Regions from separate parts of the Homo sapiens genome. Here region 2 is linked to region 1. Evidence: fine-mapped expression QTL. Tissue or cell type: monocytes. Region 1 holds a variant in brackets; the other region holds the start of a gene. All regions are shown on one strand. Distances are from middle to middle.

Region 1 (8,195 bases):
TGCAAAGGAGAAATCAAACAGATCTGATGATAACAGCTTTAGGAGAAGAGCCAAGGAGCAAGCACTGTAGGCCTTGAAAAGGAGCTTGAACTTTTTCCTCAGAATGACGGAAGCCATTGGATCAGTTAATACAGAGGAGAAATCAGAAAGCAAATTTGATGACAGAGAAAAGAGAAATCTTAATGTTACCTGCACCACTAATTCCACAGACCCCTATATTCTGTTGTTCTGATTTACTACTTTGTTGTCACCAAAATGTGTAGCACCAACTATAGATAGAGTTTCATAAAAGAAAATTATAATTCATCATCTGTTTACCACAGAAATGAGAAGAAAAATGCTGGGACACTATGTGAAGCTATTTGTTTTTTAACAAAAGAACTGTGAATGCCTGAGTAAATATACTAGAACTGTTTCCAACCAGTACACTATTCATCAGACTACGTATATGTTCCATGTCTCAGAGAGATTAATAAACTTCCAAGTGGTCCAAAGGCAATACGTTTTTTAAAAGAAATACATGATGTATATTATTTTAATCTAACTTCTGAAAAGAAGGACAAGAGGTAAATTACCAAAACGGAGAAGACTGTTTCTAATGATTTACTTTTTTAAAGAATAATTTAGAAATAATATTTTATTGTTATTAATTGTTAATATTTATTGAGTGTTTACTGGGTGCCAGGCACTATACTAAGTCTTTTGCTTATGTTTTCTTTCTTAAGCACCACAAAAACCCTAAGAAGCTTAGAAAAGTCAAGTGTCTTGGCCAAGTTCACAAGGCCAGTCTAGTATATGTGAGCCAGACTTGAACCTGAGCCTGTCTGACTTTACAGGCCATGCTCTCATTCATCAGGCGTCCCCTTTTCCCATCAACTTGTCCTTACAGCCTTTCCTCTTCATATGAAATTTTAAGCATGAGAATTCTTTTACAGAAGGTGTTTATTAAAAACTCATGAGCTAAGTAAAAATGCATCTTAATCATAATTTGGCTGCAAGTAAATTACTAGTAGTGCTACAAATGCTAAAATAACCTTGACCCTAAAAATAGATATGCAGATTAAATCACAATGTGCTGAGTGAATGCTCTATAATGGTACAAACAAATATTAGAGAAAATTTAGAGGTGTGTCAAGTTAATTTATTACAGAATACTATTTTGACAGGAAAGTCAACCAAACTACACTAATATCAAGCACAATTATTAAAATTTACAGACCTTTTGTTTAGATGTTAAGAGGTTTCTGGAGCTAGAGGACAGAATAATGGGCATACATATACATTTTTTTCTGATCTCATCATCGCTCCATATTCAAAATTTCCTCGAATCTTTTCATCTTTAATGCAGCAAAATTTAATATCCTGGAAAACAGTATAATATCTAAAGAGCCAACATTTTCCTTTCTTCTATGTTCATGCTTACTTCCCATAAAGGCCTCTTGAATTGAATATGTGTTTGCTTGTACACTGATTTATCACTGGATATGATTCTAAATTCCTCCACTGAGTGATTTTTAGGTGACACTAAAACATTGTAATCTATGTTTTATTTCATTTTTATATACTATTTCAAATATGTGCGTGCACACACACACAGACACACACACACACACACACCCCACACACCATTTTATCTTTTTAAAAGAAAATTCCAAGACTTCAGCATCACTGTTTAGACTTAGTGTAAGACTCAACTTGCTTGTTCTCATGGTCATAAAATCCCTATAAACAGATTTTTAGTTTTGGTAACACTTTTAGTCAACATGATAAATGACATAAAAATGTTTTCGTGCCTGAAAAAAACACATAGAATCTATTTAAAATAAAAATTTTAAATTAAAAACTACTTTAAAATTTAAGCCAATGCCCCTAAGGAAATAAGGTATGCACTAGAGTGATGCAACTTAAAGCAACATATCAATTTTAATAAGCCATGTGCACTAGATTACATAAATCTATTTTTCAGTCTTTTTAATGTTAAACATTTTACCAGTCTTAAAGTAGGAACACGCTAAATGTGACCTATATAAAATAGCTTAGTTAAAACACCTACGTAACATCTAAAGGACATTCCCCACACCCCGCCCCCCCAGTCATCTAATGATTTTTACATCAACGTTAGCAGAACACTAACAAATACTTTGGTGGAGAATGCCTTTATATATGAAACAAGGTAGGGAGTAGGTGAAGGTACTTAACTATTTAGAGAAAACTATAAAACCAAATATCTGCAATAATTTATTAATTCTCTATCATATTTTAATTCTTCCTAAATTACATGAGCAATGACTTCAATTGTCTGTTGCACTTCATATGTGCAAACATTATTAAACATTACCAAAATCATAGATAGAAGCCACTGTGCTGAATCTTCACTGATAGAAAAAAAAGACCTGATGAGATTGGTTGTGGCCAGGTGCAATGGTTCACACCTGTAATCCCAGAACTTTGGGAGGGAGAGGCAGCTGGATCGCTTGAACCAAGCAATCCAGTCTGGGAAACATGCAAAACCTCGTCTCTACTTAAAATACAAAAATTATCCGGGTAGGGTGGTGCACACCTATAGTCCCAGCTACTTGGGAGGCTACGCCCATGAGTGTGTGTTGAGGCTGTAGTGAGATGTGATGGTGCCACTGTACTCCAGCCTGGGTGACAGGGTGAGACCCTGACTCAAAAACAACAACAACAACAACAACAACAAAAGATTGGTTGTATAACATATTTAACTACTTCATGACCTATCCATTTAGACTGGAGTATATGGTTAAATATTACTGTGCTTGTCCAATGCAAAACAAATGAACTGATGTAGTTACCTAAGTTGTTTTATGTATGTAGACAGCCTTGTACTCTACCCTATTTCCTGTATTACTTAAAAGCAACAATATATTCTTAGTGGAGTCAAATAGATCTGGGAAAAGCAAACAAAATTTTTGCATAAAGTATTTTATAACCAGTGCACAATAAATATTTAATATTTGGAGATTGTTTAATACAAATTACACTACAATATATGTAAACATTCTTTATGAACAATACTGGGAAAGTGTGGAAAATAGGTAAAGCAAAATATGTGACATAGCAATGGAAATTAAGAGGGCACATGTGTAGGTGTGTGACAATAAAGAGAAGGCATCACTATTTCTCAAAGTAAGAACTGCATTGAGCTTTCTCTCAAATTCTATAAACACATCAAATAAATATAAAATAAAACACAGTAATATATCTAGTGTTCCACATATTACAGTTACTACATTCTACACTTTGACTTTTATCTTCTAGGGATGAAATTTTCTACATTTTTTAAAACTTAAATGTCTTGTGTTTTCATTATTTAGTCAAAGGAGTATTTAGTAATATTTCAGTAGGTGGCACCATAGCACTAAAAAACTGTAAATTATCTAAGAGCTCTTTTTCCCATTATAATCCTGTTGTGAATCACCAATGGAATTGACTAGATACATTAAACAGATGAAAATGTAGATAACAGAACACTTGATCTTCAAAGCTGTGTTATTCTAACACATGTATTGTTACTGAATTTACCTTTCCCAATATGTTTCTTTTACAACTCAAAATGTTTAAATGATCACAAATCAAAGTTACCTTGAAGTCACACCCCTAAGTCCCTGATCAGAGATTTCAGCAAAAACTAGGAATCAATTTGAGTGAAAACGGCATTTCAAAAGACATACTTGGGCTTTAAATATCACCCGTTCTCCCTCCCCGCTAAAAAAAAAAGAAAAAAAAATGGGATGCTATTTCCTAGGGAATTTAAACCTGTCTAGTTCTGCAAATCTGGGAAAAGTACAAGGGCAGAAGGGTAAAATAGAATAGATTAAATAAATACTTATTCTCAGCATCTGCCCTAAAATGAATGATAGCATGTTTTGAAGGTTGAGAATGCATACTTGACCTCCATAAACATAAAGCCTGTACAAAAGTGGAAAAAAGCAAATCAAGACAAAAAATAAGGGTCAGCTAAAACAGATATGTATGGCTTTCCTTTCTTAGCAATGCATGATAATAATAAAGTGCACAATAAAAATAAGAGAATTGCACTTTTTTT[A/TA]TGCTAGAAATCTGCTATATGGTCCACAGACAATAAATCTAACAAATCATATTAAATTATTAAGTATTTATGGAGTAAGCACTCTGGGCAGCGACAAGCCAGGTATTATGATTTCAGAGAACCACAGGAAACAGTCTTTTCTACCCTCCATTAGCTTATCAGTAAATATAATAATGATGGCAACAGTTTACTGAAATGTTATGTAGCAGACACTATGCACACCTCTTTATATAATATATATGTATTTTTTTTCTTTTAAGCATCCCAGTAAGCCAATGAGTTAGCATTATTTATCCTTTTTTATAGGGAATGAAACTGGGACCTAAAAGAGTTTAGTAAATTGCTCACAGGCACACACGAGGAAAGTGCTAGATTTGAAATAGTGTCTATTTAATAATTTTCTTATTCTTTATGTAGACGTTATGTTAAAATATTGGGTATATTAATATTATTTTTGGAATCTCATGAGTAAAGGACTTTCTGCTTATCATCAGAAAATAATTCCAAAGATTTCTACTCAGACAGAAGCAAAGGATTTTAGTGATTATTGACATGCAGTTCATTTGATATATAAGGAAACTAAGACTCAGTGAGTGTAGTGCCTTTCTGATTTCATTCAATCTAGTTAAAGCACATGAATTTATGAGCTCCACCAATGTCCAAAGAATTTCAACATCCCTTTATTGAGGCCTTTTATTAAATACAAATGGACATCCAAGAAACACTAGAACAAAGCCTCTAATAAGAAAGAAAGATAGAGCTCAAATAAACAAAAGAGGCACTTGGGAGAATGAGGCAATGCAAGGAGCAAAAGAGAGGATAACCAACTACAATTCATATTTTCAGAAATGAGAAAACATTGCACCCATGAACAAAGAGCAAGAGGTTATAAAAAGCAACATCTCAAGATCAAGAGAAGAAGTCAATAGATACTGGCAAAAATCTTTTTTTTTGTTTTAAAGAAACAGCACTACAATAAAAGATAACATTTAAAAATCACAAAATATCAAGGGAGGGGAGAGTCGTGGGAGCAAAAGACTGTTCTTACTTACTCTAGGCCTTATGGTACTATTTAAACTTTCAAATTATATACACACTTTTAAATAATAATGCAAATAATAAAGAAAAATATCAGTATGTAAAGCAGTATTGAGGATAAAGAAGGCAAATTTTTGTGGCCATGAGAGGAATAAAATCAAATAATTAAAAAATTTTAAAGATAGCAACCATATCTAGCTGTCTCCCAATGACTTATGGTGTCCAATATTTACAATAATGTTTTTTGCTTGTGAATACATATGACTTTGCAAACACACACCTCAAAACTAGGAATGCATTTGTAGGTATTTTATATTTGGTTTAAAACATCATGTTATATATTTCAGGCATGTTGATTAACGAAACAATTAATGACAAAAAAATTAATAAAGGCTACTAGATAACCATTTAAGAACAATCAGTTACACTGCTTTTTTTCTGTCTTAAACTATTTATCTACAAGTCAGGGGGAAAATTTTATCGCTTCCTGTGCAATGATGGTCAAATTGAAGTCTTTGATTTAGATTTGTGTGCCTTTAAATGTCCCATAGTCAAATTTGTTTCAGAAGTAATTCATGCTACATGCCCTTTTGAGATATTTATAAAGTGTGTTAATATATTAAAAGCATAGAAACTTATGTCACTTCGTTTAGCTCAAGATCTCCTAAAAGTATTTGCCACAAACCCATTTTTTTCCCATGGACATACTATAGGACATTTGTACAATGTAACTGCAATGTTTCTGAGAACATAGTTTACAAAATTCTGGCTTGTTATCAGTTATGTATATTTATGTGTGTGTAACCAGTATTATTATCCTGAGGAAGAAAAAATATCAATCCTTTATTTGTATTAATCCTGACTGGGAATTAGATTAAAGGTGACTATTTCTGGGCTCCAGCGCTGGAAAATCTGATTTAGTAGGTTTGTGGGGTAACGTGATCTGTGCACTGGTATTTTCTTAAAGCTCTGATGGTGATTATGATGGAAACAAGGGTTAAGAACAACTGAGAAAGATGCTTCCTTACCCATATTCTCTTTTTAAACATTTTCCAGAATAGGTTTGTTCCCATATTAATTATCTTTTTGCTTCTTATGAAAATGTCTGTTTTCATTTACCTAAATCCAGGGATATATACCTGATTTATGCAATATACTTCAGATAGCAAAAACCATTTAATTATATTAATCCCTTAGTAAGTGTATGTTTTTGTAGCTCTTTGCTTCCTCTAGGATAGGTTACGATCATCATTAAAGAACAAAGAATCATCAAAAGATGTTTGCATAAGTGGTGAAATCTTTTATTAGTGTATTTGGTGCTATCAACAGTGTTTACTATTTAATAAGCGGGTACTATGTGAATGGCACTGTCCTAAATACTGTTACATATTATTTTATCTAATCATTATAGAAATCCTACAAAGTAGATGGTATTCTCTTCTTTTCACAGATGAAAGCTCAAAATCATAAAAACGTGTATGCAAGGCTAAATAAAGAACTTGTAGCAAAATGAGTCTAGATTTAAATGCAGATCTGTCTGACTGTAAAAACCCCCATGCTTGTTCAACTGCATTGCACTGTAAGGAAAAAATATTTAATGCTAAATCCAGTATTTGTGCTAAAGAGCTATTAGGGACTCAAAAATGAGTAAATATTATGTATAACCATCAAAATGGGATTCAGAGTACCACACATTAAAACTTATTGTTAAAAAGTGTAAATTGCTGGACAATGACTACAAAAGGGGTAGATTCTTATTTTTCAGAAAAATGGGAAGAAAAGTGAACAGGCCTATGCCTAACAAAAATGGTAGCATGAACTTGTCTGTCCTTCAGTATTTTTACCCAAATCTTTAAGGAAGGAAAAATAGTAGAACATGCAAAAAAAAGTTATGATTATATTATGTCTGTACTTTGAAACAAAGGAAAACATACAAAAGCCTTTGCTGATCAACCTATACCTTGTAAAAGAAGTGGGGTGAGGGAAAGAATAGGTAAATGAAGCTCCCCATAGAAAATAAACAGTGCTAGGACAGTGAGTGTCTGTGAATTTAATCTAGTTATGTAGAAACGTGTTTACAGCACCAACCACAACCCTTTCTAAATGAGCCAGGAGATGAATTAAAATTGTACTTTTTTTTGTGAACTAACTACAATATAATAAAAAAAAGCAGAAAATAAATGCTAGATTATAGGGAGTCCACCTAATAGAAACTAATCTCCCATCTCACAAACAGAATAAAATGTCTGCTGAGGCTGCACAAAAGCCTCCCACTCCTAAAGCTGAGGACAATAAAAGCAAAGGCTGATAAATGCACTGCTTATTTCTTCTTATTTCCCTTTAATGAAAACTCTGAACAGAAACACTTGGCTTACTTTCAAAATCATTAAAGGAACCCAGGCATAATGGGAAAAGCTACACTTTCAAATAGAAGAGGTTTTCAATGTGTTGTTCTCATAAGACTGCTGTTTGCACAGCTAAAAGCTAACAGCAGTGTCTTTACTGCTCTTGTGGTTTCTTCTCTTCGGTGTACTTCTGTTTTTCTTATTCTGAGTCTTTATAGGAAAGGAAGAGGCGCAGCTCATGCGGTTAAGCACACAGGCGCTACCAAATGGTGCAATAGGTTGCCATAGCACCAGCATAATCAGCCCTATCTCGGGGTTAAAACCACAACTTCTCTAGTTGACGTTGAAGCTGCCTGACTATACATTTAACTGCTACAAAATGCTGAATTTCAGATTGATTTGTGTTTGCTTCAATAAAAATGTATTTCAAAAGTAAGGTTAGTTTTATTATGTGATTTATTTCAGAAGCACTTCATTTTGAAAAGCACTCACAAATGATATTTTAATGACAAAAATAAGTTAAACCTAATATTATATTTAAAAACATAAAAAGTCACCATTGATTTGGCCAGCAACTAAGCTTTATTAATTCATTACATTATGCAACTTGGAGAAAATAGATCACAAAGAAAAAAGTAAGACAAAATGTTTATTTGTAAATAGAACTCACATTCCTTTACCACTAGATAATGAAATGATAAAATATAGTCTAGGCAAGGATATTTCCTATTTGTTCAGCAACA
Region 2 (8,195 bases), 46 kb after region 1:
GAAAAAAAAATCAAAGGTCAGCACTGATGAAAAATTTCTCTCTCTGCACCAAGGTGACATATACACACATGGTCTGAAGATGAAACCTTGCCTTTGTGAACATTGTGTATTTACCAAGAGAATGAATCAACCTCAGTACAAATCTCTGCCCCTTACCTACTCAGATTGACATTCATCACCACACTGTCTGTAAAGAAATTATTCCCAGCTCTCTACAAACTTTTGTCGTGCAAATAATGCAACACCTAGGGTGCACCATATTCCATCTGCCCTTGCAAGCAATCCCAGAGCACTAGCATCAGTGTTCAAACCAGCAATTGCCATGACTGGACCTGATCTGTTTGTGTTATCACTCCGCTACATTTGTATTTCCCTCCCATTCCTTGCTTTTTCTCCTATGGGTATGTGTATCTGAAAAATAAAATTGACCCTCCAAATTACATTACCTAGAATGTCCAAAGAGCAGATCAAAGAAAATTTAGGAAAAACATTCTCAAACTATGAACTTTTAGGAAGTCAGGAGGCTCTTTCCAGACGAGAGGTGAGATAAGGAGAGTAAGAAAGGGAGCAAAGAAAAAACAAACAAACAAACAAACAAAAACAAAAAGGCAAGACTGTAAACATCTAGATCCAAAATCAACTTAATTTAATCTGGACAAAATAGTCCTGCTGTCTTCATCCTCCCACTTCGCCTCTGGTTAATTTTTTTATCTCATATTCTCCCTCTTTTTGACTTCCCTCTTTGAAAATTTTCCTTTCCTTTGTCACTACAATATGCAGTTTTATTTTTTTAATCTATGATTTATTCAGTGTCTGGTGAAAAATTAGGTATGGGAACTATGAGTTTATGCCTTTTGTGTCTCCTATACCTGATTTCATGTAGGTTACAATGTCAAGAAATCCACTAATTCACATGTCATCATCATCATCAATCATCATCACAAAAAAGAGCAGATTGAAATGACTTGAAAAATGCCAAGAAAAGGTGATAAAAAGTGTGCAATTCAATGGAAATATTTTGTGGCAAAAGTGACATAAGAGAACATAATAGAAGAAGTAGGATTTGCCCAGAACCTTAAACACCTTGAGAAAGTATAGAGGTGGGTGTTAAAACTACCTCCTGTTTGTTTTCTTTTAATCAATCATAGAAGAAAAAGAAAGAAAAAAGAAAGAAAGAAAGAAAGAAAGAAAGAAAGAAAGAAAGAAAGAAAGAAAGAAAGAAAGAAAGGAAGAAAGAAAGAAAAGAAAAAAGATCCCTTCCCAGCTCCAGGCCTAGCCCCCAGATCATTAGTGGAACCAGTTTCTCTGGCAAAAAAGATTAGAATTTATACCAAAGGCAATGAGAAGAAATCAGTAACCCTTCACTTTTTATTTTACTTTTTAAGCTGTAGATTACATTAAAAAAAGGATGAGACTTCAGACTGATTAAAAAAACTATTACAATTTTACAGGTGAGAAATAATAAAGCCATGAATTAAGATGATGGCAATGGAGGTGTCAAAGCAAGAAGTTATTAGAGATTATTACAAAGCAAAATTTCAGGACTTGGGGAGCATGTTAATGTCTGGATTTAGGAAAGGTAGTAAGTTCCGTGTTTCTGAGGGATGAGTCTAGAGATGGAGAATCAGAGTGATCAACACATAGTAGGCAATGATACGTAACCAAATGGAGAAAAGAGAACACAGGCGAAGGTCTGAAGTTCATGGGAACGCCAAATAGACAAACATGGAGAACTGATAGATAGATAGATAGATAGATAGATAGACAGATAGATAGATTGACTAGTATATATAACCCACAAATATATAACTAGTTTATGTGTGAGTATCTACATAAAGAAATATATGTTCAAGTATATGAACAATGTAGAAACATCTATATTTCTATACTGGTTAATTGTCACTGGTGAGAGGATAGCAAATAGTCCAGAACAAAGAAAGAACTAAGTTCAAGCTAACTACTCTGCCCCTATACTTACTTACACAGAACAAAAGAGAAAAAGATAATATAGGCCCTAGCCGTAGTCTTTCCTGTAACAAAGTACATTTCAAACTTTAGCAATGATAAAGGTCACAGGCAGGTTTTTAGTAGGACATTTTTTTTCAAATTAATAAGTAATTCTAATCACATTCCCAAATCTCTAAATTATGGAGTATTTAGAACTTAATAGGACTGCTTACCAAATTCAATTAAATAATTTTCATTGAATGTCTGTGATGTGCAAGGCACAGTCCATGTTTATAACATGAGATATATATTTTTAATACAGATGGAAAAATGAAGAATTATGTCCAGGAAATGAGTCTTAACTGTTATGACTCATAACAAAACTCATCATATACCTCACATACCATAACTCATATACTCCTAACTGCCATGCTATAGTGTGGTAGATCTGCCTGGCATTACAACTTTATTAGAACCAGAGAACACTCACCTTCACCTGCCTTCTTAAAACCATCATTGTCCCCTAACATTATTTAGAAATTCTAAACAAAGTTTGGCTTCCAGTTGCCATGGCAAAGAGGCACAGAGCAAGAGGATTAGGAAGTCTTGAGTAAAACTGAACCCTGCCTGGTTGTTGCCGTGGCAAAGATTAACTTTGGCCTTGTCCGTGTGTGCATTTTAGATATTAAATAAAATATTTGAATTATGCATAGAGTTACCATTGATGGCTCTCTACATTTGGCTCTATTTCTTTATGCCTTTACAGCATACAATATAAATTTTGTTCCCCAAAAGTTTATTATTTCCTGTAGGCACTAAACTAATTTTAACACGTTAAAATGAAACATAGAATCCAACTCATTTGTTGCTAAAAAAGAAAAATAAATAATTTAAAGCATTAAGAATTTTCCAAATTATACATTAAATCACAAAATGTTTCTTGCAACTTGAAAGGATTATAAACAATATTTGCAGATACAAATGATTATATCTGTATATGTTTTTCCACAAATAAGCATATATCTCAGGGAGTCTACAAATGTCTTTTAGAAAAATGTTTGCTCTCAATATTTATGTGAGCAACTGAAGATAAAGTTGAGTTTTCAAAATAAATTTATGTATATCCATTTATTTGCTATGGTATAAATCATTCAGCAAAGTTGATATAAAGGTTTCTAGACCCCATCATATTATTTCAATTATAAATTCAAAGATGTGTCTTATGGTTAAAAAAACATCCTGTAATAGAATGAGTTGAATTTTTATTCACAAAGGAAATATTTCACACTCTGATTTAAGCATATAATAGGATATTTGGTCTATTCAGGAGGTTGGGAAGTTTGCCTGGAATAAAAAGCAATGGAGCTAGACCTGAAGAAAATAATAGAAGTTAAATGAATATGAAGAGAAGAAAAATATTCTGGCTTACAAAATGTCTCAGTATTTCTTTATGCTCATTTAAAAATGCTTTTCGACATTTCCTGAGTGGGAATTTTAAATGAAAATCTGTTCTGATTTGTGATAATATACATATATCACTTCATTGAGATTATTATTCTTTATAATTTACTTTTTATTATCATAAGCTTTAAAGGGATGGTAACTTGATAAACATTTTCTGTACTAAGACAAATGCTGCAAATATATAGATTTTTAAAAAATTCACCTTTGCAATAAAAAGCAAAACAGCCACAACAACAACAACAAAAATCTTATGTTGTTTTTCTTTCCTCTTTCTTTCCTCTCCAAATAGAAATTGTCAATGTAACATGCTCAAGAGGTAGCTACTTCCCTGACTTTCAGAGGAAAGAAGAACGGTAAAAGTCAAAAAAAGACTTCAAAGTGAATTGTAATAAGCAAGTTGTTTTAAAATACTTTTTATACTTTTTGGAATTTCTACAAAAATTTTATTTTCAATGTCCTTTTAGATACTACATCATAAAGAGAAATATTAAATATTAATTATTAGTTACATTCTATAATCTATTGAAATGTACTCATGATTCATATTGACGCCGCTCAAGAACTATCCATTGAATAGACCATAAATGTGCAAAGATTTCAAACTTTAATAGGCACTGGAAGTCCAACTAGTTGCATTTTCCTACTGAATACAGCATTTGCATGATTTTTAAGAGTTTAAATATTTCTATCTCATCAAGGCTGTAATATTTACCCACCACCCAGGAAGGGCGGTGGCTCCACAAGAATTTCTAAAGCAAAAATGTATTAAAACTATTAACAAGAAACTAAAAACTTGATTTAAAATACATTCTGTGATAAAAATTGCAGAAAGTTAATATTTTACTAAATATCTCAATATATTTTTGAACTATTATATACCCAAGTATTCAATAAAATATGTCAATTAAATTCAAAATTTGAGGAAGCAAACTTCAGGTCTGAAAAGAGGGAGTGGCTTACATACAACCAAAGCTGTTTTATGACTTTTTAAAAGATCAAATTTGTTAAAAGAATAAAAACTCACTTATTTTATCATTAAAAAATTCTCAGGCTTTTATAAATGTGTGTTATTGTCACTTTGGAAGTTAAGTAATAATGTTGCTTTTGTAATATCTTTGAACAGTTGTAAATAAAGATACAGATAGACATTGCTTTCCTTTTAAAATTGTATTTTTTGTCCCGAAACATTTATGTCTTTGTAAACAGAAACAATGTATTCTGTCACACAACTAGCTATGTCTCCCTGAGACAACAATCTTGATGGTTTACAGCAGGCTTCTCACTTCCAGTTACCAACACATTTAAATTATTTTTATGTCTATTTCAAACATTCCTCCAAAAGAGAAAAAATAATTTAAAAAATATTAATATCCTTGTACTTACCTGTCACAAATACTTCTGTGTCCAGAAAGGCAAAGCCAAATGCCAAGAGTTTAAGCCACAAATACATGGTCATATCTGGAAGTCAGCCGTGTCCCTAAGAAACAGCATGCGTCCTTCTGAAAAGCAAAATAATTGTTATCTCTGTAGAAGTTTTTCTCTGTAAAAACGAATCAAAAATGTAAAAGTAAATAAATAAATGCATACTCTCCACTGTTGTCTTATCAGACGAGGAACAATTTCCTCCTCTGTTACCCTAAGAACAAACCACTTGCTAGCTGCATGAACTGCTAGGTGATGATGTCAGATTCGGTTTTACTAACTTCTCCAAAAATACTGTAAGGGTCCTCTTTGCAGGAAGTCAAAAAAGTTGTTCTAAGTCAGTAGAATGGCATTGCACTTCCTTAATTCAAGTAATTACACCAAGTTAGAAAGCCTTTTAAAAGATTTTCCCATCAAGGAAGATGTTTTTAAACCATCCAAATAATGCTCCTTTACAGTATCCATTACCATTTTTTTTAAATTAAATCCCCACAAAATAATCAATAATTTTCTTACTTAAGAGATGACAAACAGATTCAGCATAAGTATAACAAAATGGGTGTTGGCAAGATGACTTAGTAGAAAGTATCAATATTTGACTTACTGAGACGGCCAAATGAATGAAAAAACTACTAATCTGGTTATTTTTGGCAACCCAGTATCATTTACCATTAGGGCATTCAAAACTCAGCAATATGACAGTTTTAGCAGTAAAACCCATTTCTTATGCAAAAGCACTTTCAGACAGCTTAACAGTTTTGCCCCAAATCTTTCACAGATATCCTTGTGAAGCTAGGAGTGGAATCAGAATGTCATTTCTACTATAGTTACAGCAAACCCTGCTTCCAAAAACTAATGTTTCTGTGACTTAAGATGTTCTTGGCGCTACTGATGAGGGAAAGGACAGTGAAAACCAAGAGATACCTTTAACAAAAGTTAACTTGTTTCCTTTTTCTCAGCAATACTTTTTCAACTTTTTTAACAAATAAGACAATGAATTGTATTAACACAATGCTCTTCACCATTCTGATGTTCTTAGTTAAGTCCATCTATTAGGAAAATGCTTACTGGCAAAAAGTATAAATTCAACAATACAATTAGATGAATTGGTTTTATTAATACAATATCTATATGCCTTTAAAAATAAAAGTACACACATGTGCAACTCATTTATTTGAACAATAGATAATGCTTGGGGGACTTTTAGACAGACAGAGCCCTTGTGGTAATTCTGCAAACCCTAGTTTGGAAGCATTATTGTAGGGTTCTTATATTTAAGTAAATAAATCTTTTGATACTTACAAACTTTTTTGTTTTACTCTTACATTGGCTGCTAGGAACTACAGAGCCAAATTTCTATCACACTTTGTGCAAATGGAAATAACCCCACAGCTTAAACTCTAGGTAATAACCTTTTAATAAGATTGTAGTTAAGAATATTATTTTACTATGATTATTATTATATTTAACTTATGGAGCACTTACTATGTGCAGGAACTATGCTTTGCACTTTACATATATTGTATAATTTGTACGATACCCTTGAGCTAGATAATGTTATTATTCCCCATTTTATCTGTGATGTTCAGAGAGGTTAGTTGAGTTGCCTAAGATCTTGCAGCTAGGATGTAGACAAGCTATATTTAGAACCCAAGTCTCCAAGTTTAATTTTGCTTTCCTTACTCACCTTACTATTGCCCTTTATTTTTCTCATCCCTTTTACCAATCTTTTTGTACTATGTAAGTTTATAATACTCGAAAAGATAGACCTTTGAATCAGTGAAAATGAAATTATTCTCTTTTTGCAAATGTATTTTTAAATAAGATAACTGTGCAAGTAAGCACTAATTTTCATGTGGGTAGGCCTAATAAAACATCAGTGTCAGAACTCATGGATTTGAATACTCAGCTCCTCAGCCTATGTCTTAAAATACATTTGCAACAGAAAACTCTTTGGGGATTTGCTTTAAATATCTTTAAGCAAATACTTGTGTTCTGTGAGCTTGCTGTTATGGCAGAATATTTGGCAAAATTAGAGGCCAGGAGAAAAGTGTATATGATCTTTTAAAAGGAAGAAAAGTATATAAAATATACTCTATAACAATGTGAGTTTAGCAGCCTTAAACGGACATTTTAAAAGGGATTTGTGGCTTTAAAAAAATAGTAAGAAGTTAGGAGATTCAATTCCATTTCAGACAGGTGAGAAGACAGATTCTACCCAAGGAATCCAAGATAGATTAGCAACAAATGAGTTGCATTATATGTGTTAATCCAACACATATATAATGTTTTAACATATTCATTGTGTTAAAATTGAGTTTAGTGTCTATAGGAAATACTAGAATTTTAAGCAGCAAAATCTGTACTGTGTATTATAAAGGTGTAAAGACATACAGCTTGAAATACAGAGACATCAGCAGATGAATGTATATACAATTCTGATGGCTCAGAATGGAGACAGTGGCAACCCAGAGGTTTGTTAGCCTGAGGTCCAGGCTGTCAGGAGGGTAGGCAAGAGGGAAGGCCCTAGCAGCTTGTTAGGAGACAGAGCCAGGTTGTCCTTGATGGTATACTACACTAAGCCAGACATCCAGGAAGGACTCCGGGTAGCAGCTTGTCTTTCCACAGGGCATCTGGGGAAATTTCTACTGTATCACATACAGGCCTGGCATCCAAGCCTTCCGCTTGCATCAGCAGAAAACTCTCAAAGAAAACAGGAGGAGTATTTATGACATACTGATGTGATCCACTCTCACTGATTCCCAGAGGGAGGGTGGGCTGGTTGCTGATAAATGGGTATTTTGCAAAGAACAACTGAGTCTAGGAAATGGGCAGGAAGTAACACCAGATTTCATACATAGTAAATACAATGGCACTTGTTGAGTAGCTGAAAACAGTATGTATCCAAAGTCATCTCAAATTTTGATGAAGAAAATTTCAAAATAATCATAGTTAATCAACTTACAATAGATTTTTAAAAGCTTAAAAACTTAATATTTACTTAAATCAATAAAGTCATTTTCCAGATTTTTAAGGCTACCTACAGTAGAGGTTATATAAAGACAGAAACAGATTACAAGTTAACTACAGAGGCAGATGTTACTCATTTGTTCATGCATTCATTCACTCATTCATTCAACAAATACAGAGCAAGTTCCTAATGTAATCCAGTCATTTTACCTGACATGAGGAAAAAATGGTGAGCAAAAACAGGCATGCTTTCTTTCCTATCTACACTTTAGTGGAAGACACAATAATTAATTATCCAGTCATCATGACACTTTCATCACAAAGGCAATACTTCCACACTGTGATTTAAGCATATAATAGGATATTTGGTCTATTCTGGAGGTTGGGAAGTT

Direction of the effects. Alleles are on the strand shown, and positions count from the first base shown. SD is a standard deviation of normalised expression in the study named.
As copies of TA replace A in region 1, the expression in monocytes of the gene that starts at base 5,096 in region 2 goes up (small effect, 0.34 SD a copy in Fairfax 2014).

The links. PIP is the estimated chance that this variant, and not a neighbour inherited with it, causes the effect.
Region 2: PTPRC starts here. The variant in region 1 is fine-mapped to the expression of PTPRC in monocytes (Fairfax 2014, PIP 0.92).

What each region holds. Positions count from the first base shown.
Region 1 is chr1:198,681,501-198,689,695 of GRCh38, reverse strand. All of the region lies in intron 2 of PTPRC (protein tyrosine phosphatase receptor type C), which reads right to left. Among named protein-coding and RNA genes, the nearest start is that of PTPRC-AS1, 18 kb to the right of the region's middle. RefSeq lists an enhancer at 7,456-8,026. The variant A/TA (reference allele first, on the strand shown) is at 4,070.
Region 2 is chr1:198,635,941-198,644,135 of GRCh38, reverse strand. PTPRC (protein tyrosine phosphatase receptor type C) reads right to left here and starts at 5,096. Exons shown (of 33, transcript NM_002838.5): 1 at 4,999-5,096; 2 at 4,795-4,910. The coding sequence starts at 4,867.